Linked DNA regions of Homo sapiens: regions 1, 2, 4, 5, 6 and 7 are each linked to region 3. The links come from fine-mapping of genetic effects on gene expression. A gene starts in region 3. Each other region holds a variant in brackets. All regions are shown on one strand. Distances are between the middles of the regions. Region 1 overlaps PSAP (prosaposin). Region 2 overlaps CDH23 (cadherin related 23). Region 3 holds the start of CDH23 (cadherin related 23). Region 4 overlaps CDH23 (cadherin related 23). Region 5 overlaps CDH23 (cadherin related 23). Region 6 holds the start of LOC105378356 (a long non-coding RNA gene). Region 7 overlaps CDH23 (cadherin related 23).

The links.
Region 1: its variant is fine-mapped to the expression of CDH23 in whole blood (INTERVAL, PIP above 0.99).
Region 2: its variant is fine-mapped to the expression of CDH23 in whole blood (TOPMed, PIP 0.96).
Region 4: its variant is fine-mapped to the expression of CDH23 in whole blood (TOPMed, PIP above 0.99). The same link has a PIP of 0.9 or more in CD4 T cells.
Region 5: its variant is fine-mapped to the expression of CDH23 in whole blood (INTERVAL, PIP above 0.99).
Region 6: its variant is fine-mapped to the expression of CDH23 in tibial artery (GTEx, PIP above 0.99). The same link has a PIP of 0.9 or more in aorta.
Region 7: its variant is fine-mapped to the expression of CDH23 in whole blood (INTERVAL, PIP above 0.99).

What each region holds. Positions count from the first base shown.
Region 1 is chr10:71,822,069-71,826,068 of GRCh38, forward strand. It overlaps PSAP (prosaposin), which reads right to left. Exons shown (of 14, transcript NM_002778.4): 7 at 3,769-3,825. Among named protein-coding and RNA genes, the nearest start is that of PSAP, 27 kb to the right of the region's middle. The variant TG/T (reference allele first, on the strand shown) is at 2,123.
Region 2 is chr10:71,704,923-71,708,922 of GRCh38, forward strand. CDH23 (cadherin related 23) reads left to right here. Exons shown (of 70, transcript NM_022124.6): 25 at 1-208; 26 at 1,975-2,127. Among named protein-coding and RNA genes, the nearest start is that of C10orf105, 13 kb to the right of the region's middle. The variant G/A (reference allele first, on the strand shown) is at 1,979.
Region 3 is chr10:71,394,634-71,399,152 of GRCh38, forward strand. It overlaps CDH23 (cadherin related 23), which reads left to right and starts at 2,287. Exons shown (of 70, transcript NM_022124.6): 1 at 2,287-2,685. RefSeq lists a silencer at 1,806-1,895 and an enhancer at 2,579-3,090.
Region 4 is chr10:71,739,209-71,743,208 of GRCh38, forward strand. CDH23 (cadherin related 23) reads left to right here. Exons shown (of 70, transcript NM_022124.6): 36 at 436-564; 37 at 1,614-1,742; 38 at 2,486-2,713. Among named protein-coding and RNA genes, the nearest start is that of C10orf105, 21 kb to the left of the region's middle. The variant A/T (reference allele first, on the strand shown) is at 2,240.
Region 5 is chr10:71,774,524-71,778,523 of GRCh38, forward strand. CDH23 (cadherin related 23) reads left to right here. Exons shown (of 70, transcript NM_022124.6): 39 at 3,157-3,378; 40 at 3,666-3,785. Among named protein-coding and RNA genes, the nearest start is that of VSIR, 3.0 kb to the left of the region's middle. RefSeq lists a silencer at 3,483-3,638. The variant G/A (reference allele first, on the strand shown) is at 1,909.
Region 6 is chr10:71,470,317-71,474,316 of GRCh38, forward strand. The region is part of intron 3 of CDH23 (cadherin related 23); the gene reads left to right. LOC105378356 (a long non-coding RNA gene) reads right to left here and starts at 3,738. Exons shown (of 3, transcript XR_946055.3): 1 at 3,584-3,738; 2 at 3,096-3,300; 3 at 2,562-2,973. The variant G/C (reference allele first, on the strand shown) is at 1,919.
Region 7 is chr10:71,785,371-71,789,370 of GRCh38, forward strand. It overlaps CDH23 (cadherin related 23), which reads left to right. Exons shown (of 70, transcript NM_022124.6): 44 at 261-368; 45 at 3,570-3,672. Among named protein-coding and RNA genes, the nearest start is that of MIR7152, 3.4 kb to the right of the region's middle. The variant C/T (reference allele first, on the strand shown) is at 1,815.

The sequences.
Region 1 (4,000 bases), 430 kb after region 3:
ATCCAGCCAGAGGACAGGGAGCTGGACAGCACCCTGGGCCCAGGTCAAGGCTACCTCCCTCTCCCCCTCCCACAACGGGGCAGATTCCAGTTTCCATGTTAAAGGGCTCGTGTCTGAAGCAGTGCATATGTGCCAGTTACATCTCGGGGAGGAGACCACACAAAGCTCCTAAGGAACATCAAACAGAGTCTCCATCCAGGGCCACCACGAGGGAGACTCCCCAGCACCTTCCACATCTCCAAGGACACCTGGTCTGTTCTAGAATGTGTCTTTTCAGGTCACTCTAGGTAGGAACTAAGCTATGCTTTTTTCTAGAGGGGGAACTACCATGCCCATAAACTAACAGAAAGCCAAATGTGTTAGAAATAAAACCACACCAGATTTTTCAGCGGCAGGACCATTTAAAATGATGCATTAAGGGGAAATGCTGGCTTTTTAAAAAACCACATTCTATGTTCAAGCTGCACACAGTGCACATGAAAACCCAACCCGCCAAATGGATGAATCATTTTAAGCCACAAGGTCTCCAGATTGATCCCCTTTCACCATTTAGACACCAAACACAGAGCACTAGATAGTCTAGACATCCTGACCATGACACTCTGATGGCCAAGAGTGAGACAAGTGTATAGACTCTGTATATTGTGGAAATAAATGCAACCAGCAACTAGCTCTGAGCCTGAGTGCATTTGCCTTCCAGCACCAAACCCTAAAGCAGCAGGAACAAAAGTGCTAAAAACAGGACCTGTTAAGGGAAAAGAGCTAGACCATGACTATGGCTCATCTTGTTTTAATATCAAGAAGGTTCGAGAATTAATAAGACCGGGGGAGTCTGAAAAGTATATCCCAAATACCCTGTCTCTGCCACACCTTAAGAATGAAAAATAAATAAATAAATAAATAAATAATAAGAACGCAGCTGAAGATACAGCAAGCTTTTTAGAAAAAAAAAAAAGACGCCAATATTCAGGAGGTATAGGGCTGCTTCTGCCTCGATCAGCTTTGTTCCAACTCCTTGAGGAGGCCTAGGTAAAAATTCAGGTATTTCAACCAAAGTCCTCTCCCATTAGACTTCAAAATACCTTCAAAAAAAGCTCCAATGCTAATCCTAGCAGATGGATGCCAACGCTCAGAGGTGGCAGTGTTCAGGACGGCCCCGAAGGACACTGGCTCAGAGCAAGTATGGACTGGGCATTTGGTTCTTGTAGCATGCCATCTGATGTGGCTCTAGATCCCAAAGGACCCTGTTACCCAGAGGGGCAGAAGCCACAATCAAGAGATTGTTTCCAATTCTCTGGATCCAACAGCCAGGAACAGTCTGCTGGCTGTCTGCAAATGTTTGCTCATGCAGCAGAAGCATTTCTGTGTTTATGAAAAACAGCACTAAAGACATGCAATGCCTACTTGCGTTGTGACAGACACAAGGTGCCCTGGGGAAGCCAGACCTACACTGGACTTCCTAACTGGCCTACGTTGAAGGAGGCTGAGGCACCTCCTGGGCCACCCATGGTTCCCCATTGTCACACTGGTGGCCTGCATGTACGTATGCTGTATGTGGACTGTGACCAGAGCACAAGGCTCTGCTGGCTTCATTTTACTGGACCCCGAAGGGGAGATGAGACCCCCAAAACCTCAAGGGCTGAATTACAGGGGAGAGATGCAGAAGCCCTCCCCAGCCTATTAACAGAGAGGGAGCCTGCCTCTCGTAACCATTCCTTGTATCTGTCAGAGCTAATCATGCCATACCCAAAAAAAAAAAAAGCAAAGTAACTAGAGGAAGCAGCAGACCACTACTGCAAGCAGATTCCCCGACACATACCTGATCCTGCTGTTGAACAAAAAAACAGGAAATCGGAGGTGAAAATAAGAGAAAGGAAAGGACACAACAGTTAAGAAAAATTAAAACAACAATCAAGCAGTTAACCAGGTGTAAGGATGTCCCAAGAGGTTCAGGGGAAATGCTCTTGCAATCAGATCTTAGCAACCTACCTTGTTCCTGCTATCTTGCGGACAAGGGGGCCCTGAAAGCTTTCCTGGCCCTGCAGGGATAGACCATTTGGGGGCTGTCCTGCTCTGTGTGCACCATCTCCAGGTCTTACACACTAAATCACACTCAAAACAC[TG/T]TGTAGCAAGAGCCCCAGAAAATGCTTGATGAAGGGTCTCCATACTCAGGAGCCCACACTGGCCCCGGGCCCACAAGGCTTTCCCACAGGTTAGTGACCAGCAGCACCACAGAACAAGACACAGGGCTGCCCAAGTAAGGGGGGTAAGGGATCCCTGAGGGGTAAGGGATCCTAGGGCAATCTACTGCAGGTGGCCAAATGGCAGCCTGGAAGGCCAATTTAACAATGTATCCAAAGCCTCATGCTTCCATTCAGCAGTTCCAGCTTTAGTTCTCTATAATAAGGGGAAAGGCAGGGATATGCATATATGTATGCATTTGGCTATAAGGATATTCATCTTCCCAAAGGCAAACCTGAAAACAACCTAGATACATCCGGCCACCGGGGACCAATTATGTAAATTCTCTTCTATGTACACAGGTGATTATTCTGCAAGCATTTAGTCATTTGTACAAGAATATTCAATGGCCAACATATTTTTAGGCAAAAAATGCAAACTACAAAGTACAAGGTAGTATATATGAACCCGTTGATATATTCTGAAACTCCAAATGATTTTTGTGTGGGAAGTATTGTCCATATTTTCAACACATTTCTACACAGTATAACTTTTATAATGAGAAAAATATTTTAAGTTAGCTATGAGGAAGTACTTCACGAGATTAAATCCCGTCAATGCTTATCTTTACCTACTTCAGGTGCATGTCTCTGTAAGCTGCCTTTTAACTGTTTTTAGAACATGGTAGGGTGTGAGTAATAATCCCAAATAAACTACTCCTCCTCAGCTTGCTTGAGTGGTTACAGCAGGTCAGAGAGTCAATCTTTCAGGCTCCTTGGCCATAAGATCTGGCTGCAACTACTCAACTGTGCTGCTGTAGCACAAAACAGGCGTCGCTGTGTTCCAAAAAAATACCCTTTAAGTACAAAACATGATGGGCCAGTTTGCTGACCCCTGGATCAGAGAACAAACTCAAACGCTGGTATGTCAATCTCAAGTAGTCAGAAAGCATGACAGACAGGGAAAAGGTGCCCCCCACCCACTCAGCCCTGCCAATCAGATCTAAGGAGGCAGTGCCCGTTCCCAACGTGAGCAGGCCGCCCTGCTCTGCGTGGACTAGCGAGCTCATTTCCTGAATGGGTATTCTTGATTCTAATGAAGGAATGCCCCCTGCCACCTGAATGCATCCAAAGCCAGCTCAGGAGTTACCAGCTCAAGCAGCAGCTTCAGCGGACGCTGCTGCCATGCACGGGACAAACTCCGGGAGGCAGTATTCCCCCGACTCAGGTGGCAACACAGCCATTCTCAGGCCTGGCTTAGTTAGAGAGCACTTGACTTCTACAGATCCCAGGGTTAAAGCCAGACCTAGAAACCTGATGGCTGGCCTGAACGGGCAGAGGCAAACAAATTGCCAGGAAGCCACCAGGGCAGTCCTGGGATCAAGATGCTTCAGCCTGCCTCTCCCGTAACAGGGGAGGTACTGAGATTGCAAGTGGAGAGTCTCCTAGCCAGAGGGGTCGATTTAGCCCAATTCAGCACTCTAAGGTAAAAAAGGGAAACTAAACCATATAATTTTCAAAATTCCTAGAAATGACGAAACCTGAAAAACAAAGAAAAATGCTAACAAGGGGCCTCCGTGCCACCTACCATGTGCATCATCATCTGGATAGCAATTTCAGAATACTGGCTGATATAGTTCTTGCACTGAGGAGAGAGAAACAGATTGCTAAACAAATCACTGCAACAATGCACCAAAACCCAACCAACAAAAACCCCCCAGCATTTCCAACAGTGTCAACTGGTGACTATCAAGCAAGTTTCTAAAGTAGAATTTTATGAATGTCTGCTCTGGGCCAGCTTTAATAAGATGAAAATGACA
Region 2 (4,000 bases), 310 kb after region 3:
GACCTCGATGAGGGCCTGAACGGCCTGGTGTCCTACCGCATGCCGGTGGGCATGCCCCGCATGGACTTCCTCATCAACAGCAGCAGCGGCGTGGTGGTCACCACCACCGAGCTGGACCGCGAGCGCATCGCGGAGTACCAGCTGCGGGTGGTGGCCAGTGATGCAGGCACGCCCACCAAGAGCTCCACCAGCACGCTCACCATCCATGGTGAGGGGGCGCAGGGGCTTCTGCTGTGTGCTCAGTGTGTGGGCACAGGCCTGGGTCAGGGGCAGGGGTAGAGGGGAGCCCATGTCCCCCACTGCTGTCTATTGGACTTGTAGGCACAGGCTCCCTTGTTAATGAGGTGCCCTCCCCAGCTGGAGCCATTCAACACAGCAGAGCCTTCTCCACACCTGACCACTGCCTTCAGTGCCCCAGAGCTCAGGGGCAGTGGCCTGGACCTGCTGCCAAAGCCCCATCAACCCCACCCCTCCTAGCCTCTGATCGTGGCAACAGCAGAGAGGGCTTGAGCAGGGCCCGGGACCCTCAGGGTCATGAACAGGCAGGGAGGGTGCAGAGCCCTTTGTCTTCTTTGGAAGGCCAGAGTTTTTGTTTGGGAGACATAAAGGAGACCTCCCCCTCCCATGGGTGTGGAACCCCTGGACTGGCAGTAGCAGGGCATCACCCTGGGAAGAGAGCAGCTGGGACTCCCAGACTCCCTAAGATCCTCATCCCCCTGGGACTCTCATGCTCATTCCCAGTGTCTCTGCCCTCTATTGGTGAAGGGACGGGGTACTGTTTCCACTCTGGATGAGTCTTTAATTTTCAGGACAGGATGCAGACATGAGCTGTTGCCAAGGGGCCAGGAATAACCCCAGGGAAATAAGGGCAGAGTTTAGCAGGCAAGACATGGCCTGTTCCCTGAGCCTGTTCAATCCCATCCTAGCTCTGCTGGCCTCCATGGGATGGTAGGGGGCGGGGGAGGGTGTAGTTAGCTCAGCACAGGCTCAGACACTGACCCTCTTCAGTTGAGACCTAAGATGGTGAGGATTTCAGAGAGCACAACATTCTCTCTCCCATTGGTCCGAAGCTTGCCTGTGGGTTTCTGTTGCCAGTTTCAGGACCCCCTTATTGGCCGATGATGGACAGGGAATATGTCCCAGCTTTAAGAGAGGACCCCTGGAGGGCCTTTCTCCAAGACTCAGCAGAAGCCATAACATCAAATGGGCCCAGGATCTCTCCTGGTGATACCATTCAGAGGAACCCAAGTGGGGTGGGGATCACTTCGCTATGAAGGTTGTCCAAGCCCCATCTGCCTGAGGAATAGGGGCCTAGCATGCAGAGCGGAGTAAACACATCTGTAAGGGAAATTAAACCTTATTTCGGGGGGTGGGATTTTCAAAGTGAGCTCCCTTTGCTGAAAGTCCGTTGCATGCTGAGGGTAGACCTTGAGGCTCCAGCCCTCCACTGTGCCACTGTGTGACTTTGGACAAGTCACTCAGCTGCTCTGAGCTCCCGCTTCCTCAGCTCCACAGTGTGTCTAATAATGCCCACCTCCTAGGGTGCTCAGAGGGCTGCATGTGGTCCTGTATGGGAAGCACTCAGCATGGGCTTGGCACGCTGGACAAGCTCGTAAATGGTCACTGTCGTCATCGTTGTCATGATTGTCCGTGTTGCCATGGTCGTTGTTAGGTGCGTACTGGAGAGAGGTTCTAAGGTTTTCTCTCCTCCCTTTGACAGCTGAGCAGCAATAAGCCCCCAGGGCACAGGGACAGCGGGAGGGTCTGGAGCACTGGTGGGCCTGGTCCTGGCCCCGGTGGGCATGGGGGGCCCTGGGCTTATGGCCAGGAGGTGTTGACACAGATGCCACTTGGAGCCCGTGACTCCCTTGGGAATTCATTCCCTACTTGGTCTGGTGCTGGAGACGCTGCTCTGGAGCTGGGTCTTCTGCGGCAGAAGCCAGGCCTAGCCCCGGCGCCCGTTCTGCCCCGCAGTGCT[G/A]GATGTGAACGACGAGACGCCCACCTTCTTCCCGGCCGTGTACAATGTGTCTGTGTCCGAGGACGTGCCACGCGAGTTCCGGGTGGTCTGGCTGAACTGCACGGACAACGACGTGGGCCTCAATGCAGAGCTCAGCTACTTCATCACAGGTGCTGCCCCGGCCTCCGCCCACCTGTGCAGGCCTCCTGGGGCCCTGCCTCCACCCCTCCCAGATGGACAGCCAGACTAGGTGGGGGCAGGTGAGGGTGGAAAAGAGGTCAGGGCTCTACTGTTGGGCTTTAGCCTCTGGTGGTGCCTCCCGAGGATTTGCTCCTGGCTCTTCCCAAGGGCTTTGCAGCTGGATCACTCTGGACTGGCTCCCTGGGGACCTCCTGAACCTGTTGGTTGCAGGGACGGGGAGCATCTACCAAGGTTCATTCTAGAGGGAGGTAAGGCCCCATGATTCCTAGGGAGGAGCCCTGAGCCCCACTCCCCGCCCCAAGTCTGGGTGACAGAGCAGTGACTTGGAGGAATGTGGCCTCATCCTTCCTTGGGGACCTGTTGAGAATTCCCACCTGTTTAGAGGCAGATGGTTTTGATCTCCCTAAATGAAATGGTTTTAGCTCAAAAATGTTGCCTGGCTGTTGTCTGCAGAGCTGTGGCCACAGATGATGAGGCCATGTCCTGGCTCACAGGGGAAAGTGAGCTGCAATGGATTAGTGATGTCTGCCACAGTGGTAGGATTGGTAGATGGTGGCGCACATGCCATGGGTTTGCCATTCCTGGATGAGAACACAGCTTCTTAGCCTCCCCGACACACGAGAGATGCTGGGACACATGGGGGTGCAGTCTTCCCCATTCCTCAACCCTCTTTGGCCCTTTTACTGGCTCAGTCTTCTCTCTGTCCATGACCTGCCTACCAACACACATGTTGCCTCTGCATATGTGTGCCTGTACACACGAGCAGGGCACACACCAGCCTTCCCAATGCCTCCCCATGAAGCAAGGATGCCCAGCTCACAGCCCATCTGTGGCTTTGCTGCGGCCAACGTGACCTCCCAGCCCTCAGCCTTCCCTTTCTTCCCTCACCTCCCTGAAGGGGCCCAGCACCCTCAGGCCCACTCCTTACAGTCTGGCCCTCAAGTCGGCCCTAGGGAGGGCTTAGTTACTAAGACCCCTCACATGGCACCAGCTCCGTGGCTCCACTGCCCACACTATTTACGTCCTAGTTCTGCCCTGGGCTCCCCGGGAGTCAGAGTGTGTCCCTTGCAGATGGTACTTCAGACACTGGGGAGCACTGGAGGTTTGGGGGTCAGGAGGCTTTCCCTAGGGGCAAACCAGCAAGAACAGGGGGAGCACCTGGCAGCCTGCAGGATGACTCTTCAGCACCCCAGAGTGGTGGGCTCCCGCTGACCTGCCCAGAGCCCTCCCGGATTTTCAGTGCACATTCTGCAAGGAGCTGAGCCCAGTCCTGCCCAAGCTCACCACAAAGCTGGTGCCGTGGCGCCCTCTGCTGCCCAGAACACCACACTGCTCGCCAGCTGGCAGGGGAGGGGTCTCCACGCTGTTCTGGGAGTTCCTTCCTGACTCCCGTCCACCGCGAGAGGAGACCCTCACACTTCCCACCTGTCCCAGAACTCAAGGAGACTCAGTAATCCCTGTCTCCTGTACACCTGCCTTGACTCCTCCCTCTGTGGAGCCTCCATGTCCCCACTCAGGAAGCTTCGCTCCTCAGCCCATCTCACCTCCGAGATGAGGGGCCTGGGGGATGCTCAGCCAACCCCAGAGTTCTCAGCAACATATACAAGCCCCTATGCAGGTTAGCTGCTCAGACGCTTCTGCAGGACGGGCAGGGAGCAGAGGGGTGAAGGATAAGCCCAGGGACCCACGCATGGAGAAACCCAGAGTGGCACAGGCACATCACTGAGTGAGGGGTTCTCCTCTGTGAGGTGGAGGCTAAATGAAATGGTCTGCATGAAGTACCTGTAAACAGGAGGTGCTTCGTGAAGGTTAGGAACGGATTCCAGGCATCTGGCACCCCCG
Region 3 (4,519 bases):
CACAGGGGTTAACTAACGTTTTCTGTAAAGGGCCAGGCTGTAAATATTTCTTGTTTTTGCAGGCCATGCGGTCCCTCTTGAAATTCCTTATGTCTGTAGTTGTAGTGTGAAAGGAGACACAACCAAACAGGCCATGTCTGTGTGCCACTAAAACTTTCTTTACAAAAACATGTGATGAGGCAGATTTGACCTCTGGGTAGCGGTGTGCTCACCCCTGGTCTAGAAAATTTCTTGGCACATAGTATTTGACAAATAAATACTTTTAATTGAAGCAGTCTCTTCTCATCAACTGTTGCCTCCCAATCAATTCTCTCTCTCTCTTATTTTTTTTTAGATAGAGTCTTAGTGATCCTACTGCCTCAGCCTCCCAAAATGCTGCCATTATAGGTGTCAGCCACCAAGCCCGGCCTCTGAAGCTTTCAGTCTTAGGATAAAGATCAACTCCTGATTAAGGCCAACACACCTGCACAGTCTGGCCCCCACTCCATTGTGGCTTTACAGTCACTGCCAAGGACTAGAGGGACCACTCAGTGACTCGGATCAGAGAGGGGGTGCTTAAAGCCAACAGATGGTGCAGGCTCACTCACCCTCCCAAGCTTCCCAGGAGCGTTTCCTCGTACGCTGGAGGCACGGAGCTCTCCCCACCCTTTCTGGACTTCCTGACATATGCCAGCTCCTTCCCACCTTTGCACAAGTTGATTGCGACTGCGGTCACCAAACCATTGTTCCTGGCCCAGCCGTTGCCTGCAGTGGGCACCTGGGGCCTTTGCACATGCTGTTTCTCCTGCCTAAAACTCCACTCTCTCTCCCTTGCTCATCCTTCAGCTCAGTCACCTCCTCTAGGAGGTCTTCCCTGATCCCCTCGGCCAGGCGCCATTAAAGCACTCTTCTTCCTAGCACTGATTCTGGCTGTAATTTTACCTGCTTATGTGTTTCATTGATGAATGTCTGGTTCCCCTACTAGAGAAGCTTCATGGGGCACAAAGACCAAGCCTGTTTTGTTCTCCATCCTATTCCTAGAAACTATTTCAGTTAGCTAGCACATAGCAGTGACTGTGAATGAATGAATGAATAATGAATGAGCGAATGGTAAGGAACTGGAGCTTTGGAACCAGATAGATTCTGGGTTCAATACCCGACTCCACCACAGGGGCAAGTCCCCAACCTCCTAAAGCCTGTTTCTCACTGTAAAACTGGGATAATGGCAGGGCCCACCAGAAAGACTTTATTGAAGATAGAATGAGTTGAGGCCCAGAAAGTCTCAGCCCAGAGCCTGGCTCCAGGCAGGTACTGTCAATGTACTGACTGGAACAGTGACAGCTCGGAAATCCTGTCATGTGAGAAATAGTTTTAAAAAATCAGAATGCTTAGCCCCGGGGAAGTAAAGATCAAAGGTAGGGGATAAACCTCTTCCATTACCTGCATATGGACCCTTTCTTGATCCAGCTGTCTCAGAAAGCCATAAAGTCTCTGTCCCTATAGGTGTGCAAAAAGGAGCCGGGAGACCATGACTCGGGCACTGCAGACGGAGCTCCCGCAGGGGTGAGGGCGCCTAAGTGACCTCACGGGTCTCCTCCAACCCGGGGTCCTCCATTTCTAAGCACTTGGAGGCCTCTTGAGCTCTAGTGAGGGAGGAGGCGCAGATGGGAGCGCACGAGTCGGGTGGGCAAAGGCAGCTGGTTGGAGAGAAGCGTAGGCCAAGAGGCCCCAAGGACTAGAGGGACTGCTCAGCGACTCTGGGAGCAGAGAGGGGGCGCTTAAAGCCAACAGATGGCGCGGGCTCACCTAGGCCGAGCGCCCGCTCGCCCGCCCGGGCTTCCCGGGAGCGTTACCTCGCTCTGCCTGAGGCGCGGGGCGGACGAGACGCTGGGGGCCCCATCCCCCTGCGCGCCCCTCTGCGGGACGGCTGGCGGCCTGGCGGGGCACTGCTCTGTCTCGCACCTGGGGCCTCTTCCGCGGGCTTCCTCCCTGCCCCTTTGGGGGATTCGTAGAGTTGCCACAGCAGCCGGTGCCATGACATCGGCAGAGGGCAGCTTCGCCAGCACTGAAATATTCATGCCCTGAGCGCCCGGCGGGGCTCGGCGCCGCTCCCGGGGGTCCGGGCGGGGCCGGGCGGGAGCTCGGGGGTCCTGGCGGCCTGAGGGGTGGGGGAGCGCCGAGCGCGGGCGGGCGGGCGGGGGCCGGGCGAGGCGGGAGGTGAGGGAGGGAGCTGCGGGAGGCGGGGTCTGGACGGCGGGGGCCGAGCGGGGCGGGGGCCGAGCGGGGCGGGGGAAGCAAGGGAAAGTTGATCGCGGACTTGAGCGGCGGCGGCGGCTCGGGAGAGAGGGACGCGGGCTGCAGGCGCGATGCTTGGCTAGAGGACGCGTCCGACGGCGGCCGGACGCTGAGGTGGTCGGGGCTAGTCAGCCCGGCCTGGGCATGGAGCGCGGGGTGGCAGAGCCTCTGGACGTTTGGGGCGCGCCCAGTCCGAGCCCCCGGCGCGCCTGAAGTTGCGAGCGGCGAGCGGCGAGCGGCGAGCGGCCCGCGGAGACCCAGGAGCTGCCGGCACGCCGCGGATGAGCCTTCGCGCCGGCGGGAAGACGCGGCGGTGGCCAGGGCCAGAGCAGGCGGCCCGCGGGGGCCGATCCGGCGGAGAGCAGAGCCCGAGGCGAGGCGAGGCGCGGCGCCGCTGCACACACGCACACGGTACCCGGAGCCACGCACCGCCTCTTCCCTCCTCGCTTCCCTCTCCTTCCCCTCGCCGTTCGCCCGCCGCGCGGCGGGGAAGTTGGTGGTGACCGCGGCTGCCGAACCACTTGTTCCCAGCGCGGCCATCGCCCGTGGCGGGCGCTCGCGGCATCCTTCGGTCCCAGGCCCCTGGCCCTAGCCTCGCGCCCCGCTCCGAGCTCCCCGACGCGCGGCAACTTTGATTCCTGGGAACTCGAATTCCATTCGCGTTGGCCTTGGGAGGACAGGCATCCCATCCCCCATCCCCGGTCCTGGGACCGCGAACATTTGGGGGCTTTGCTCTCGGCGCTACGGAGAGGGTCCAGGTCTGGGGTGGAGAGATTTTCGAGAGTGGAGCGCGTTGGGATCCAATCCCCTCCCCTTCTGAGCCCTGGGTCCCCATTTGGACAGTGGGGATGGGGTGGGGCGCACCCCTACTGCGGGCTGGGCAGAGGCGCTGAGGGGAACTAAAGGCACGTAGTTCTCCCCTCCCCTCATCAAGTCCCTGTGCCCGCGGGAGACCCCAGGGGACTTACACATCCTCCCAAATTCGGTCCAGCTATGGGAAGACGCGCCCCTCGAGGAGCCGGGAGCCTTTTGCGGCTCTCGCTTCGCCTTCCTGGCCCTGGAACTGGTCCGCTACGAGCGGTGCTGGCTGCCCCCAGGAGCTGGCACCCGGGAGCACTGCCCCTCATCTCCACCGTAGGTCAGCCCAGGACTCGAGCAGAGCCCGCGTGTTCCAAGGCAGTGACGGCGCCAGCCGGCGGGGACTCTGCCTGGCTTTCTCGGAGCGGGCACCTAGAGAGGCTGCCTCCGTGCTGTGAGCGGAGATCCGATGCCAGCCGCCGCCCCACTGCGACCCCAGCCCCAGCCCTAGTGCTGTCAGCGGTCCACTGGGAGGAAATTAGCCTTTCCTCGGTAGTAATACTCCCCCATCCTCCCTAGTAATTCAGAAAGCAGAGCCTTCTTTTTCTACGTCCTTTGCCCTCTCAGACCAGAGCTGGCATTGACATTGACCTCGCCTTCCAGCCCCTTGGGAAGTGCCCCAACCCTAATTTGGATTTTGAAATAAGCTAGAGAGACACAGGAGTGTGTGTGTGTGTGTGTGTGTGTGTGTGTGTGTGTGTGTGTGTGTGTTGGGTGGAGTCAGACCCTCACACAGGGAAGAATTAGGTTGTGGGGTGTGGGGTGGGGCGGGCTTTAAGAACCTAGTTGGGGCCAGTTGCATGGTGATGATGAGTCAGCCCACGATGGGGAGAGCTGGCTTGGAGTTAGTGCTTGGTTCGTGGTGCAGGGGTAGGCGCACTGCGGTCAGCACCTACAGGGGTGGGGGCACTAGATGTTACTCTGCCAAGGAGGAGCTGGGAAGGGGCCCCTTGCCTGGGGGAATAGCAAGGCTTGGTTCTGGCTGCCAGGGCTGGGGAGGGCAGGAAGGCAGAGTGTCTCGTGGTAGAGGGTGGGTGTCCCCCGTGAGTTGGGAAGGTGGCACACAGAAGCCACTGGTGTGAACCAGGAAGCTCTGCCTCGAGTGCTGGAGGACAGCAGTGAGGGGTGGGAGGCCCAGAGCTAGCATCCTGGCCCCGTCTGTGCTGGGTCCGCATATACTTCTCAGACTTGGCCTTCCTCACCTCTAAACAGCTGGGCTCCTCACGTCTGCTTACCAAAGGGCTTGATTTGAGGGTTGTGATAGCAGATGGTCCTGGTTGCCTCTGGAATAGCTCCCCCACTCAACAAGCTACCTTACCTGCAGTTTCACCATTTGAGGTTCATTTATTTGAGCCAAGTATTTTAAAGGGCACCTTCCTGAAGTGCT
Region 4 (4,000 bases), 340 kb after region 3:
GACCTTGGCTGGTTGTTCCATGTTTCTGAGCCTCCTCTCTGTGAACTGAGAACAGTTGCTTTCTGTCAAGGTTGCCGTAAGAACCAAGTAGAGTCCAGGTAATGCCGCAGCGTGTGCCCACCCCAGCAGCGTGAGCACAATCCCCTCTACCCTGGGAAGACGTCAGTGCCATGGGACTCAAGCCCCACTCTTCCAGGCCAGGATACTGATATCTCCTAGCCCCGGAACTTTCCATGGGTGCTACACTACCTCCATGGGCCTGCACCCCCATTTTGAGGGAGATGAATCACTTCTGCTTAAAACACTGCACTCCCAAAAGCCCTTGCTCAACAGAGGGCCCACGTGGGCAGAGGAGGACCAGGGAGTCCCCCTTGGCTTGACCTGGCCACCTCTCCTCCACACCTGCTCACCCCTCACCCTCTCTTCTCCCCACAGGTGGTCTTCTCCCTGGCCTCTGGCAACATCGCGGGGGCCTTTGAGATCGTCACCACCAATGACTCCATTGGCGAAGTGTTTGTGGCCAGGCCCCTGGACAGAGAAGAGCTGGATCACTACATCCTCCAGGTGGGGCCTGGCCTCCCTTGGACTGAGAGACCACTGGCTAAGTGCCTAGACCGGTCACTACTCTCCATCCAGGAGAGAGCCTGTCCATCAGCACACTCTGGTGGTCAGTGCCCCTGCTGTCACCAAGTAACATGGGGCCAGCTGCACCCATCGGGGCCAAGAGCACAGTGAGGCTGACCCAGGATAGGGAAACCTGGGAGGGACCTTAGATACCCAGGAGGAGGTAGTTGAGGTGTCTTCCCCTGCTGTAAGAGCCAGGAGGATGAGGGAGAGCCTGGTGGAGCTGGGAGAGCCCCAGCTCTTCTACAAATACAGTGTGGCCTTGGACAGGTTATTAACTCTGGGCCTCATTTTCCCCACCTATGCAATGTACAAAAAAATCCCCGTCTGGCCTGCCCTGTGGAGGGAAGAAGCAAGTGCAGGCTTGAGGAGCCACGAAGGCTATCATTATTGCAGAATGGCCATGGCTGGGATGTTTGCCAAGGGCTTTCTGGGAACCTCAGGACTGCGCTTCTGCAGAGGGCTCAGCTCCTGCAGCACTTATGACTGCATCAAGGCTCCCAGGAACAGGCTCAGCCATAGGGCGCCAGCTCATTGCTTATAATATTACTTGAGGCTCTTTTCCCGTTTGCCAGAGATCATGGGACAGAGTGCGTGGGACAGAGGCCTTTGAAGCTAAAGACAGGAGCCTTGGGTCAGGTTGCAGGCCCAGGGTCATGGTCAAAGGCTGGCACAGCCCAGAATACAGTCAGAGGTAGGTCAGGAGGTCAAGGCTTGGGTACATGTTAATCAGATTCCAAACGAGGATCCCAAGTCAGACGACGATTGGGCAAGAATCATTTGCAGCATGGGGCAGAAGGTGAAGGCTTTGGGGAGAGCCCAGGGCTGGCCGGGAGAGCCCAGGGCTGGCCAGGCCACCCAGGGGTTCTCAGTGAGTCTCTTTGCCCTCCCAAATGCTCCCCACTGATTGCACAGCCCTTTTGGACTCCATATTCCCAATCCTGCCCGCCACGCTTTAGCCCTGACTCCAGTTGCCCTCCTCCTTGCAGGTTGTGGCTTCTGACCGAGGCACCCCTCCACGGAAGAAGGACCACATCCTGCAGGTGACCATCCTGGACATCAATGACAACCCTCCAGTCATCGAGAGCCCCTTTGGATACAATGTCAGTGTGAATGAGGTGAGGGCAGCCCCGGGGCCCATATAGCTGGACATACGGGGGGACCGTGGGCACGAGCCAACCATGCAGCCCCTGTTTAAATGTCTGCCTGGCCCACTGGTCCCTCAGATCTCATGGATGGGAACTGTGGCTCATTCGTAGTGATAGCCCTAACGCCTAGCCTGGATCCTAGAATGCAGTATCTTTTTGGAGTAGAGGAGAAGAGAAAAGAGAAAAAGAAGAAAGTTGCCTTTCACCAGACAGGAAACTGAGGTTTACCCCGGGAGCTTGCTTTTTTAAAAAATGTATTTATTATTCAGCCCTAAGACTGAGCCACTCCAATCTGCCCTGGCATTGCTGGGTATCATGCTAGGTTGGACGTTCATGAAGGCAGGATGACATGTGGCCAGAGTCTAGCTCTCAGGCCAGACTCCCTCACTTCAGCCCACTGATTGGCTGTGTGGACTTGCACACATTCCTTCCCTGCACCTCAGTTTTCTCTTCTGTAAATGAGGATG[A/T]TGATGCCAGTACCTAACTCACAGAGTTGGAGAGAGGACCCAGTGAGTTAATGCAGGCCCCAGCATATCAGAGGTGCTCACAGAATGTTCGCTGCTATCATCCTTATTATCTCCATCATTGCTCTGGGGTAGATGCAGCAAAGCTTTTGGGAGGTACAGGGGGAGCCTTCGGGCTACAGGAGCAGGTGCCAGACTGTGCCCCAATGCCTTGAGTCCAGAATGACTGCTCTCCTGCTCTCCTCCCAGAACGTGGGTGGAGGTACTGCTGTGGTCCAGGTGAGAGCCACTGACCGTGACATCGGGATCAACAGTGTTCTGTCCTACTACATCACCGAGGGCAACAAGGACATGGCCTTCCGCATGGACCGCATCAGCGGTGAGATCGCCACACGGCCTGCCCCGCCTGACCGCGAGCGCCAGAGCTTCTACCACCTGGTGGCCACTGTGGAGGACGAGGGCACCCCAACCCTGTCGGTGAGCGATGGGGGTGGCCACAGGGAGGAGCGGGTGGGCCAGGGCAGCTCCGCCTCCGAGTGAGGGGAACAAGATGGGTGAGAATGGAATTCCACACAGCAGGCGAATCCTTGACAACTCCTTTAGTCCATCTGCCTTTAGTCCATCTGCCCAAGATGGCCTCCCCTTACGGAGGCCTGTTGCGTGCAAAGCTGGGGTGCTAGTTTGGCCTCCCGAGTCTATAGCTACTCAGAAGCTCTGTTTAGTCCTCTTTTCTCTCACAGAGCAGCTCTATGGGGTGGTACAGGTTGAGCCTCTGTATTGGGGCCTGGCCCAGGGAGCAAGTGGGTATGAATCTAGCCCCCGCTTCACTTGCCCACCTATGCACTGTGAGGTCACACCAATGTGCATGGTGGTGTCTTACAGAAAGGGTGCCTCTCTGGCCCTCTTCCCCTACATTGTGTGGTGTGGCATGCTGTCACAACACGTCAGGGTGGGAAGGGATTCGTGTCTGTGGTTCACACTAACGCTCGAATGAACAGCACCACTGCCCAAGGCAATGTTCAAAGTTTGCCAGGTGAGGGAAGGACTTGTGGTCCTCAAGGGCTGGATGGAGATCTCTAGGAGCTGATGAGCTGTGTTGGGAGTGGCTTATAAACTGAAAGCAGGGAATTTGGAGTCAGGAGCACTGTGGCTGGCTGCATGATCTTGAGCAAGTCAGAACCTCTCAGCATATCGCTTTTGTCATCTGCAAAAGGGAGATAATATCTACCTCATAGGTGTTGTTTGGGGAATCAAATTAGCTCATGTCTGTGGAAGCACTTGGTAAACCATGAGGAGGAAGAGGACTGTTATTAGTTCTCTATTGCCACAATAATGCTGCCTTACAAACCAAACAAAACAGAGGAGTAAAACAATAACCACATAGTTAGCGCTAATTCTGCAGGCTGGCAATCTGGACATGGCTTAGCCGGGTGGTTCTTCTGGTCTCAGCTGGGCTTCTGCATTTGTATGTGGGCAGCTGCCTGTCAGCAGGGTGCTATGCTTCTGAGGGTTGGCTCGCCAGCAGCTGGGGTGACAGGGACAACTCATCCTCCAGAAGGCTAGCCCGTGCCTGTTCTTATGGGGCTGGAAAGTGTCCAGAAGAGACAGCAGAGGCGTGCAAGGCCTCTTGAGTCCCTGGCTTGGAACTGGCACAAGGTCACTTCTACCACAATCTGTTGGCCAAAGCAAGTCACAAGGCCAGCCCAGACTCAAGCTATGGGAAAATAAACTCTACCTTCTGAAGGAATGAGCTACAAAGTCACA
Region 5 (4,000 bases), 380 kb after region 3:
CAGAGCGAAACTACAAACCTCTCTCTGATGTTTCTGAGACCCTAGCACAAAGCTGGGCGTGGAGAAGGTTTTACTGCACTTTTATCTGAATGGACAAACCAATGAGTGAGTGAGTGATTGTGTGATGGAGGAGCAGAGGTGATCGTGGCCAGGACCAGGGATCACAGGAGTGGAAGAGCACAGCCATTTTACTCAGTTTACCCCAGTCTAGCTGAAGCTTCCAGGGGTTTTTCTGGCACTTTAGGGATCTTGGGTTAATAGGTGACTCCTAGGCTGAGAGGCAGAGGACACTCAGAGTCTGACTGGGTCAGGAACCAGGGTATCAGGACTCAATGGGAGCCAGGAGTCCTGGGGGCCTTGTGGGTGGCCTGATCCAAGTCACGGGCTCTCTGGAGGCCCTTAGCCCTTGCTCTAAGGGCAGGGAAGGCTACAACAGAGGAAGGCTGAGGCATCATGTTATTACTAAGTGAACTTGTGCAGGCCCAGTCCCCCTGGAGCCAGTGAACTCCCCAGGATGGGAGCCCCAGAGGCTGGCAGGACATAACCCAGGTCCTTGGGCATGCTCCTGGCCTTGTGACCCCACCTTGGAAGGCAGCCCAGGGCCCTTCCTGCTGGCATAGCATGAGCTCCCTTCCACCAGGGGAGGTACAAAGCCAACTGAGATCAGGTGGACACCGGGCCCTTCTCACCCTGACATCCTCTGGCAAGTGAGGGGGGTCCCTTAAGGGCAAGATCCTAGAGCACCACCCCATCTCAACCCTTCCTGGACTGGCTTTGCTCAGGACACCCTTGAAACCAGACTCCCTCTTCCCCAGGGCCTAGCAGCCGGGGAGGGCCTGGAATTAGAGAAAGGGGAGCAATTGCCCTGCCAACCCCTTCCCCAGGGGGATAGAGCCTCTGAGCTGGGCCCAGTTCCCTCCCCCCTTTTCACTTCCTTTCTCCCTACCACACTGCCCACCACTGAGCCTCCTGGGGTTGCATCAGGGTGAGACACAGGCATTGCCCAAGGACCATGGTCCAGAAACCTCAAGCACTGTTTCCTCAACACCAGGGCAGGACAGGAAGGGCTCAGCTGAGAGGGCCTTTGGAGCACTGACTTTCTCCTCCCTCCGAGACCAGAGGAAGTCAAACCCACCTTCCCTCCCCAAGCCCAGACCTGGTCTCAGAGCAGGAGGGGCTCCAAGGCCCAACTCTGTTCAAACTCTCCACTCCCAGCCCCTGCAGCCTGCACACTCCATCATGTGTTTGTGCTTGTTTTCATTAAAAATAGTGGTGAAGGCCCCAAATATTCGAATAAAGATGACTGTCAAGGAAAGCCACCATGTCCATCTTGTGGCTCTGCAGGGCCTGGAGGCAGCTGTGAGTACTCTCTACTGGTGAGGGGCCCAGCCTTGAGCCTTCCTGAGTCCCCTTACTTGCCGGCAAGAATACAAGAGCACCACATTGCAGGAAAGGGGCTGAATTCCAGCCTCCCTGTTGGGGAGGGGATGCTGACATTTCCCACATTCCCAAACTCACCTCCCAAACTCCCTGAGCTAGAAACAACTTTAGAAATCAAGCCAGGTCCTTTATTAAACAGACAGAAAAGGTCCAGAGAGGGGATGTGACCTGCCCAAGGCCACGCAGCTCCTTTTCAAGGCTGCCAACCCTATCTGCTTTGGAAACCGTTTCAGCAAACACCCAATGCCCTCCACCCCCAAGATCCAGAGCTGCATATCAGAGGAATCATTGCCTCCTCAGGGGCAGTGACAGCCTTCTTGGGTCCAGATCCCCTGCCCATCTGTCCATTCTTCCAGTGGTAGCTCCAGAGCCAGCCAGTCCCAAGGAAAAAACCATATGCAAATTGCCTACATTGAGTTGTCTGTACCACCTGCTTTCTGTTCTCTGGCCTGGCAATGGCCTAGTCAC[G/A]TTCTCTCTACCCAGACACCTTTGCAGTGATTAACACCTTATTATTTTATATTAGTCACTCATTATGATTTGTATTAGTTAGGGTCCTGGCAGGAAACAGATGGCACACTCAGAAAGGGTTCAACTGAAGAGAGTTTAATACAGGGACTGTTTAGGAAGGCTGGTAAAGCACCCAGAGACTAGCACCAACCACAGGAAGCCACTACCACTCACATGTCCAAAGGGAAAGAAGAGGAAGTGATGTTCTGGAGCCCAGTGAAAGCTGGTGCTATGAAAGGGGGACCCCTGTCCCCAAGCAGGAGAAACACAGCCATGGGCAGAACCGCAGTGAGGAATGGAGGGAGTGTGGAAGAAACACCCCCGCCTCTTTCTCCCCACTGCTTTCATCTTCAGCCAGGGCCTCCCATTGGCCACACCCAGCAGGAAGCTGGATAGCAAGGGAGCCAGGGTAAGGCAGTTAGTCCACAGGGGACATCTTCCCAGGTGGAGAAAGGCAGGAAGCAGGAGCAAGAACCATTTCTAGTTGATTCTTGAGTGCTGATTGCCGAGTTCTGATTAGCTGAATATTACTTGTGGTCCAATTGACTCAAGCATTGGCAGAGATGGCCGATCACAGGAGAGTATGTTGTAGAAGCTGTTCTTGGAATGAAGTTATGTTCTGTGAGTCTTATTTTTCACAGGTCAACAAGTTCTGCCCACGAAATTGCCACAAACCCAATGTCCTCCTTCTGGAAATGCTGAAAATATGTATTTCTTTCATTTACATGAACAATAGATGAAGGTTAAATATGGCATTGGGCCGAGTGCCTCACATTCTTGCCTCTTGTAGTCTGGCAGGACATATAGGCTCAATAAGACACAGGCCCTCGTAAAGCTCTGAGCTGGGGTGACTACCAGGGTTCATCCCATATGCCAGTCTTAATCACTAGACCACTGTGCTAACAAGGATCCCAAGTTTGCATCTGGCCTCAGCAGTTCTGTGATTGATTAGTGATGTCTGCTGGGGGTCGCAGACATAGGAGTGGTGGTGCCAGTGCCATCTTGGACAGAGCAGTTACCTTACTTGGCTTTTGGTGGAGTTTTTGAGCTTTCTCTCTCTACCAGCCTGTGACCCACCCCCTGCTTTCTTCTCCTTGCCCTTTCTGTTTGAGTCACATGGAGTGAGTTCAGCCCAGGAGAACAGCCATCTGGATCCACCTTGGTCCCTCTGGCCACCTGACCAAGGACGTGACCCACTCTTTTCCACAGGCCACCACGCACGTGTACGTGACCATTGTGGATGAGAATGATAACGCGCCCATGTTCCAGCAGCCCCACTATGAGGTGCTGCTGGATGAGGGCCCAGACACGCTCAACACCAGCCTCATCACCATCCAGGCACTGGACCTGGATGAGGGTCCCAACGGCACAGTCACCTATGCCATCGTCGCAGGCAACATCGTCAACACCTTCCGCATCGACAGACACATGGTCAGCAGCTGATGGCAGGATCAAGACAAGGGGCGAAACCTATCCAGGGATTGGCAAGGAGTTCAGTGACACTGGAGGGGGATGGAGCAAAGATGCAGTCTAGGGGAAACTGTGGGGGCACTCAGTGTGGGAGGATGAAAAGTTTGGTGGAGTGGAGCCTGGGCTAGGGGGTGGCAGTGGTTCCCCATCACAGCTCCAATGTCAGGGCCTACTTCCCAAATTGGTCAGAGGGTGCTGCAGACCTACCACCCCTAGATCCATCCTTGTCCCTTCCCTGTGTCCCCCAGGGTGTCATCACTGCTGCCAAAGAGCTGGACTACGAGATCAGCCACGGCCGCTACACCCTGATCGTCACTGCCACAGACCAGTGCCCCATCTTATCCCACCGCCTCACCTCTACCACCACGGTGGGTGCATGGGACACAGCCCCAACTTGGGCTTGGAGGTTGGCGAAGGATGGGACCCAGAAAGCTCCGATGCGGGAAGGGGTTAGGGGAAGATTGTCTGAGGGAAATGCCTAAATCCAAGACCCCTGTCCTAATCTCAGCAACTCACTCAAACTTGCTGTGTGACTTTAACGAGGTCACTGAACTTCCCTGTGTGGCTACATCTGTCAGACAAG
Region 6 (4,000 bases), 75 kb after region 3:
TGTGTACAGTTCAGTGGCATTAATTACATTCACAGTGTTGTGCAACCATCACCACTGCCTGTTTCCAGAACCAACTTACTTGTTCCAAACAGAAATTCTGTACCCATTAGATAATAACTTCTCATTCTCCCTTCCTCCTACCCCCTAGCAATGTCCACTATGGGACGTATTTGATTTTTAATTTTACTTTTTTTTTTTTGTCTTGCTCTATCACCCAGGCTGGAGTGCAGTAGCACCATCACGGCCCACTTCAGCCTCAGCATCCTAGGCTCTAGCAGTCCTTCCATATCAGCCTCCTGAGTAGCTGGGACTACAGGCATGTGCCACTACACCCAGCTAATTTTTTATGTTTTGTAGAGATGGGTGGGGTCTTGCTGTGTTGTCTGGGCTGGTCTAACTCCTGGGCTGAAGTGATCCTCCCGCCTTGGCCTCTCAAAGTGCTGGGATTACAGGCATGAGCCACTGTGCCTGGCCCTTATTTTTTATTTTAGCCATTCTAATACTTATGTGATAGTATCTCATTGTCATTTTATTTGCATTTTCCTAATGATTAATGATGTTGAGCATCTTTTCATGTACAAATTTATTTGCCATCCATATATCTACTTTGGTGAAGTGGCTATTCAAATCTTTGACCATGTTTAGAAAATGAGTTATTCATGTTCTGATAATTGAGTTTTGAGGGTTCCTTATATACAGATAAAGGACTCATATATCTGAGTCCTTTAGCAGATATATGATTTGCAAATATTTTCTCCCAGTCTGTGGCTTGTCTTTTCATTCTCTTGGCAGTGTCTTTTGAAGAGCAGAAGTTTAATTTTGCGGGTCTTTCAGCCAAGCTCATGCACTCGCCCACTCTTGACCGCAGTCCCTGGCTTACTGCACTGCCATCTGCGCGCAGCCCGGCTCTTGCTCCCACCACAACACTGACGTGGTACCCACTAAGGCCAGCCAGTGGCTCTCACTCTGCCGAGTTCAGCAAATGTGTTGCAGATGGTATATGCCTGGGACCTTTCCCTGGATTTGACCCTGCAGGTCACTCACGACCTGGAACTGTGTTCCTCAGGGACCCCTGCTTCTCTCCCACCACTGTGATTGTGCCTTCTCTGTCTCCGTCTCCCACTCAGCAGTGATGCTTCCCAGGCACGCACCCTCTGCCCCCTTTATGTGCTCTCTGTGGTGCGATTTCCCTCATATTTGCTTTATGACCACCCCCAAGCCAGTGATACCCAGTCTCCAGCCCAGCCACCTTCCTGGACTCCAGTTGCGTGGACCCAGCTGAGCCCTGGAAGCTGCACCAGGAGGGCCAGCGCCACCCCCATTGACGTGTCCCCGTGAGAACTTTTCCCCAAACCCTCCCTCTCTAACCATCCCACGCCGTGTTGTTTCTGACCCCAGGGCCTTGTTCCTGCCATTCCTGCGGCCTGGTACACCTGCCCTAGGTTTCCTTTCCTTTTTCTTTTCCTTCATGCATCTCAAGCCGTCTCTCTTCCCGGAAGCTTTGCTGGGATTCCATCCTTGGGATCTTTCCTCTGTACTCATGGCCTGTAATACAGCTTAGCATGTACACACATCCTACGTGGAAACCATCTGTTTATATGCTTATTTCCCCCAATAGGTGGTAATTGCTTTGAGAGTCAATGTGACTTCTAATTTGTATTTTTGTCCCCCACATCTACAGGTGTGCCTGGAATGGATCTGGTGCTCGACAGATGATAGGTGATTCAGTTTCAGGGCTGGACCTGGGCCAGTCCCGAGCTTGTTTGTCCTCAGCTCCATTCTTGGCCACCTCCAGCCCTGCTCCGAGTGGCGGGGAGCTGACCCCATGGGCTGCCTTCCTCAGGCTCCCAGATCAGCTGGCTTCTGCCTGGGTTTAGCCAACAGGAGGCCCTGGCAGGAGACTGGATGGTGGGAGGAA[G/C]GGAGGAGCCAGGGTGTTTCTTTCCTTCTCTCCTCGGGTGGTAGCTCCAAAGTTTGTGTCTCTTGGCTCCTGTTAACACCACCTCCTCCCTTGTCCCTCCCGCAAAGGGCTGGCAGTGTGGCTTTCTGCTGGGCCTCTGTCTGGGTCACCACACCGCCCTGTTTGGCCTCTTGGCTCCTCTATCACCCGTGTGACCGATTCCCCACGTTAAATCCCCTCTCTTCGCAGCTCTAACAGTGTCTCCTTCTTTCTGGTTGGACCCTCACTCAGCCCAGCTGCCAGGGACTGTCCCCTCTGCTTGTACAGTGCTGGCCCAGCATTCACTTGTCCAGGAAATGCCTGGGTGAATGGCAGGCACATGGGCCAGGCTTCAACTTGCTCTGCCCTCGCCCTTTGGCCTTGAAGGTCCTGCCAGATACTCCACAGCGAAGCGAGGCCTGAGCCCTTGTGCTGGGGTTGCCAAGGGAGGGGTCTGGAGGTGGCAGCAAGTGGTGGGAGGGCAGGTTGGCAGTGCCAAGGACTCCTGTGCTCTGTGCATGGCCCTTTATCTATTAAGCCTGCTGAGTGGTAGACTCCAGTGTGGTCCCAGGTGGTGGGAAAATAGCATCTTTAATTGTGCTCGGAATGAGATTAACTTCTTATCTGACAGTTTGACATCTTTATTGTTATTAATACCCGAATAATGCATTGTTATTTTTATAAACTCCATGGTGGCAAACATTTTTCCTTTATTTGGATTAAAAGTAGGTGTATCTGTTACTTCCCCTCATTACCCTGGGCTGGAACTCAGGGTCTCTGGCTGGGGAGCAGGGACTGGGGTGAAGGGAAGCCCATCTGCCGAGTCCTCTCCCAAGTGGCAGAGGAGCCAGGCCCCAGAGCTGGTCACTTGGCAATAGCACAGTCAAGGTCTGGGCAAAGCCTCCTGGCCTCCATTCCCGCCTGGGAAGGCAGGATGCTCCCGGAGTCTTCCCTACTGGAGAGGCGGTGTTCTGGAATACAGAGCCTGGAGACTTTGTCCTGGACTTACTCAGGGGCTGTAAATGGAAGTACAGGTTCTCCACAGCATCAAGTGGATGGAGAAGGAAGACATAAAAAGTCAATATAAATGCCATGGAGGAATACCAAGGGCCCTCTGTGCACCTGTGTGTTCATTCATAAGTATTTGCTGATCACCTACTGTGTGCCGGATATGATGTTACGTGCTGGTATACGATGGGGCTGGCATCCAGAGTGCCCCTTTTGGGGGTGAGGTTGAAGGGAAGGGCAGGATAATACCAAAGTCAGGATCATGGCTCTTGAGTCAGGCTGCCTGGGCCCAAATCCTGGTATCCAGAGGTCCCAGGGCAAGTTCCTCAACCTCTCTGAGCCTCAATTTTTCTCGTCTGTAAAATGGAGATAAAAAAGTACTTACTTCCAACATTCTTGGGATCATCAAATACATGTGAAAACATTTGCTACACTGCCTGGGGCACAGAAGAACCCAACAATATTATGGATGATGATTGTAGCTGCAGCTCTAGACGTGGGGCCAGGCCCTTGCAGTATGGCTACTAGAGGGTCAGGTGAGCAGTGGGCAGGGGTGCCCACAGCTGGCCCCTGTGAGCATCAAGCTCCCTCCCCAGGGACCTGTTGCCCACTCCCAGGCCCCCTGGCTCCTCCACTTACCCAGTCGTTAGCCCAGCTGACAAGGATGATAATGCCTCTGCCTTGGAGAGCTGGCGCCGACGTCTTTATCAAAGCCAATATTAATTTTCACTAATTAGGAGCTGCCGCTAATGAGCGTCACAGCTAATTTAGCTCATCTATAACCTAGGAATGGCACTGCTCTCATGCCAGGCTCCAGAGTCCAGGATGTTGGTGCCCGCTCCCTCCCCCACCTCCTCTCCACAATGCCAGAGGCACCAGCTGCCAGTACAGCCTGTTCCCACATGCCACCAGGGCCAGCTTGTTCTGCAGAGGGTCCAGTGGCCTTCACCTCCAGGGAGCCCTCAGGGTGGGGCCAAAGGGAAAATCCCTAAGGAAGGGGTCAGAGTATGTGCCAATCAGCTCCAGGAGTAAGTTTGAAACAGGAGGTTCAGTCTG
Region 7 (4,000 bases), 390 kb after region 3:
TTCTCACTTAGCCTCTTGAGGTGTCTGTAGATGGCCAACAACACCATGGGGTCCTCCGAGGGCCATCTCTCAGAAGCAGCAAGGCCTGGGCATGAGTGGGTCACTCTCGCCCCGGCGAGACCCTGCCGACCCACATTTTTGGCCTTCTAGATCATCTCTTAGGCAATTTAGGGAGGCCAAGCAGAGCAGTTGGCATCTGTGGGCCAAAGTAGAAAGCAGGGAAAAGGTCTCCATGCAGCTCACCACCCTCCACATCCCAGACAGGGATCGTCACTGTGAACCGGCCCCTGGACCGCGAGCGGATCCCAGAGTACAAGCTGACCATTTCTGTGAAGGACAACCCGGAGAATCCACGCATAGCCAGGAGGGTGAGACTGGAGGGCACTGGTGGGAGTGGGCTGGGAGCTAGAGGCGCATGGAGAGAGAACACATCACCCCTCCTGCAGGCAGCATAGCCAGGCTTAGATGCACAGGCTTTGGAGTGAGCACGTGCTGGCTTCAAATCCCAGTTCTCTCCTTCAGTAGGTGCGTGGCTTTGGCTAGTTAACTCCTCTTGGCCTCCATTTCTCTTCTGCAAAATGAAGATCTCACCTACCCCAAAGTTGTAGAAAGGATGAAGGAGCCAATATATGTGAAAGCCTCAGCACAGTGCCTGGAGTGTGACAAACACTCAGTGAACATCAACTATCATTGTTTCCTCCCCAAACCACTGATACCTGGACACACACTGCATTTGTGCATGGGGCACATGGGCCTGCATTCACCCACAAGCATGCTCTGAGGTCCTGGAAGGGCTGCGTTTTCCAGGTGGCTCTCCCCTCAGAAGCCAAAGAAATGAGCTCTTGACTAAAGGGAGGTGGATGTTGCAAAGCAAACAGTCCCTTTGGGTTGGGGGTCAGCTCTGTCCTTCCAGCCCATGAATCTGTGGTAGATTCCTAGCCAGAAGCCTTCAGGCCCAGTTCATCTCAGCTCTGCCCCTGACTAGCTGTGTGGCTCAGCCAAGGCACCACTCTTTCTGGGCCTCAGTTTCCCTATCGGTCTAGCCAGAGGAGACGTCAGGCTGGAGAAACTCATAAGCTACATGCCCCTCCCATGTGGTGCTCCTCTGCTTCCTACTCTTTTTTTTTTTTTTTTTTTTTGAGACAGAGTCTCACTCTGTCACCCAAGCTGGTGTGCAGTGGTGCAATCGTGATCTCAGCTCACTGCAACCTCCACCTCCCAGGTTCAAGCGATTCTTGTGCCTCAGTCTCCCGAGTAGCTAGGATTACATGCACACGCCACCTTGCCCGGCTAATTTTTGTATTTTTAGCAGAGATGGGATTTCACCATGTTGGCGAGGCTTGTCTCAAACTCCTGACCTCAAGCAATCCACCTGCCTCAGCCTCCCAAAGTGCTGGGATTACAGGTGTGAGCCACCATGCCCAGCTTCTACTCCCTCATTTTTGCCCCCACTTTTTCTCTTTTCTGCTCTCATTTTTCCTCTCCCTTGCCTGGCTTCAGGAGGGCCCCGGGTAAAAGCAGCATTGAGTGGCAGGACTCGGTGGGCTTAGGGGCTAAGCCCCACTCTGCTGCTAACTCACCACTTGGCTCTGAATGGGCACTCCCCATCTCTGCACCTTGGTTCCCTTGTCTCTGAGGTGGTGACAGTGCACAGGGGTACTGGAGGTTCTGAGGTTTGCGAGTGTGAAGTGAGGCACTGGCAGAGTTTGAATGAACTCCAGCCAGGGCAACAGGAAGGCCTTGAAGGTCGAGAAACAGGACTCATCTTCCCGCCTGAAGTGAGATGGAACAGGATTCAATCCCATTTGCCACAC[C/T]TCCGTGAAGGAGTTAAATCCCTATTTGCCAGACTAGAAAACTGAGACCCAGACAGGGGAAATGAGGCACCCAAGATCACCCAGAATAGGGTCTTCAACCCAGGTCTTTGAACCCTGGTGTGGGCGCTTTTCAGATTTTTTTTTTTTTTTTTTTTTTAGATTCAGGGAGTACAAGCACAGGTTTCTTAACATGTCCATATTGTGTAGTGGTGAAGACTGGGCTTTTAGTGTACCCATCAGGTGTACCCAAAACTACCTATTATGTCCAATGTTCACTGAACTGTGAACTCACTGCCACTCACTGAACAGTGAACATTGTACCTAATAAATAATTTTTCAACCCTCACCCTCTTCCCATCCTCCCACCCTTCTGAGTCTCCAATGACTCTTATTCCATTCTGTATATCCATGGTTACACATTATTTAGCTCCCACTTATAAGTGAAAATATGCAATATTTGACTTTCTATTTCTGAGTCATTTCACTTAGGATAATGGCCTTCAGTTCCATCCATGTTGCTGCAAAAGACACGACTTCACTCTTTCTTACGGTTGAGTAGTATTCCATGGTCTATATACCACATTTTCTTTAGTCAGTCCTCTGTGGATGGACACTTACATTGATTCCATATCTTTGCTATTGTGAATAGTGTGGCGATAAACATGTGAGTGTAAGTATCTTTTTGATATAACGATGTATTTCCCTTTGGGCAGGTACCCAGTAGAGGGGTATTGTGGGATTGAAGGGTAATTCTGTCTTTAGTTCTTTGAGAAATCTCCATATTGCTTGCCACAGTGGCTGAAGGAATTTACATTCCCACCAGCAGTGTATGAGCATTCCCTTTTCTCTGCATCCTCACCAGTGTCTGTTGTTTTTTTCTTGAGATGGTGTCTTGCTCTCTTGCCCAGGCTGGAGTACAGTGGCACAATCTCGGCTCACTGCAATCTCTGCCTCCTGGGTTCAAGCGATTCTCCTGTCTCAACTTCCCAAGTAGCTGGGATTACAGGTGTAAGCCATCATGCCCAGCTAATTTTTTTGTATTTTAAGTAGAGACAGGGTTTCACCATATTGGCCAGGCTGGTCTCGAACTCCTGACCTTAAGTGATCCGCCCACCTCAGACTCCCAAAGTGCTGGGATTACAGGCGTGAGCCACCATGCCCAGCATGTTGTTTTTTGACTTTTTAATAATAGCCGTTCTGACTGGTGTGAGAGGGTACCTCACTGTGGCTTATTGCATTTCTCTGATGATTAGCAACACTAAGCATTTTTTCTTTTTTTCTTTTTTTTTGAGATGGAGTCTTGCTCTGTCATCTGGGCTGGAGTGCAGTGGCGTGATATCCGCTCGCTGCAAGCTCCGCCTCCTGGGTTCATGCCATTCTCCTGCCTCAGCCTCCCAAGTAGCTGGGACTACAGGTGCGTGCCACCACGCCCAGCTAATTTTTTGTGCTTTTAGTAGAGACGGGGTTTCACCATGTTAGCCAGGATGGTCTCGATCTCCTGACCTCGTGATCTGCCCGTCTTGGCCTCCCAAAGTGCTGGGATTACAGGCATGAGCCACTGCACCCGGCCACATTTTTTCATGTTTGTTGCCCTCTTGTATGTCTTCTTTTGAAAAATGTGAGTTCATGTTGGTGTGGGCTTTTCTGATCATCCACCTCTGTGCCCCAATCCCCAACCTCCCAACCCTCCTCCCACCTAGGTGGGGGCACTTTGCTGAGCATGGCCTACAACGTGCCCCATTCTGCCCCTTGCAGGATTATGACTTGCTTCTGATCTTCCTTTCTGATGAGAATGACAACCACCCCCTCTTCACTAAAAGCACCTACCAGGCAGAGGTGATGGAAAACTCTCCCGCTGGTAGGTGCTGGGCCCACCCGGGAGCTCCTGCTGTTGCCAGGCACCACTGGGGCCTGGGATGCCTGAGGACCTCCCTTATGCCTAACGGCATAGCTGAACCTAGACCCCAGTGGGTGCGGGAGGGGAAGGATGGGTGCAGCTCCGGGAGATGGTGGGCTGGGGCTCCCGGGCCTCCTATGAGCACAAAGAAGCCACAGGTCTGGTTGGAAGAGACAGTCGTGGTCATTGTTCCCCAGGGTGGTCTGAGAGCTGCCCCACCATCCCTCAAGAAGGGCATGTAAGGTGTGAGGACTACCCCGGAGGGGAGTGGGTCCACCCCTCACTGCTC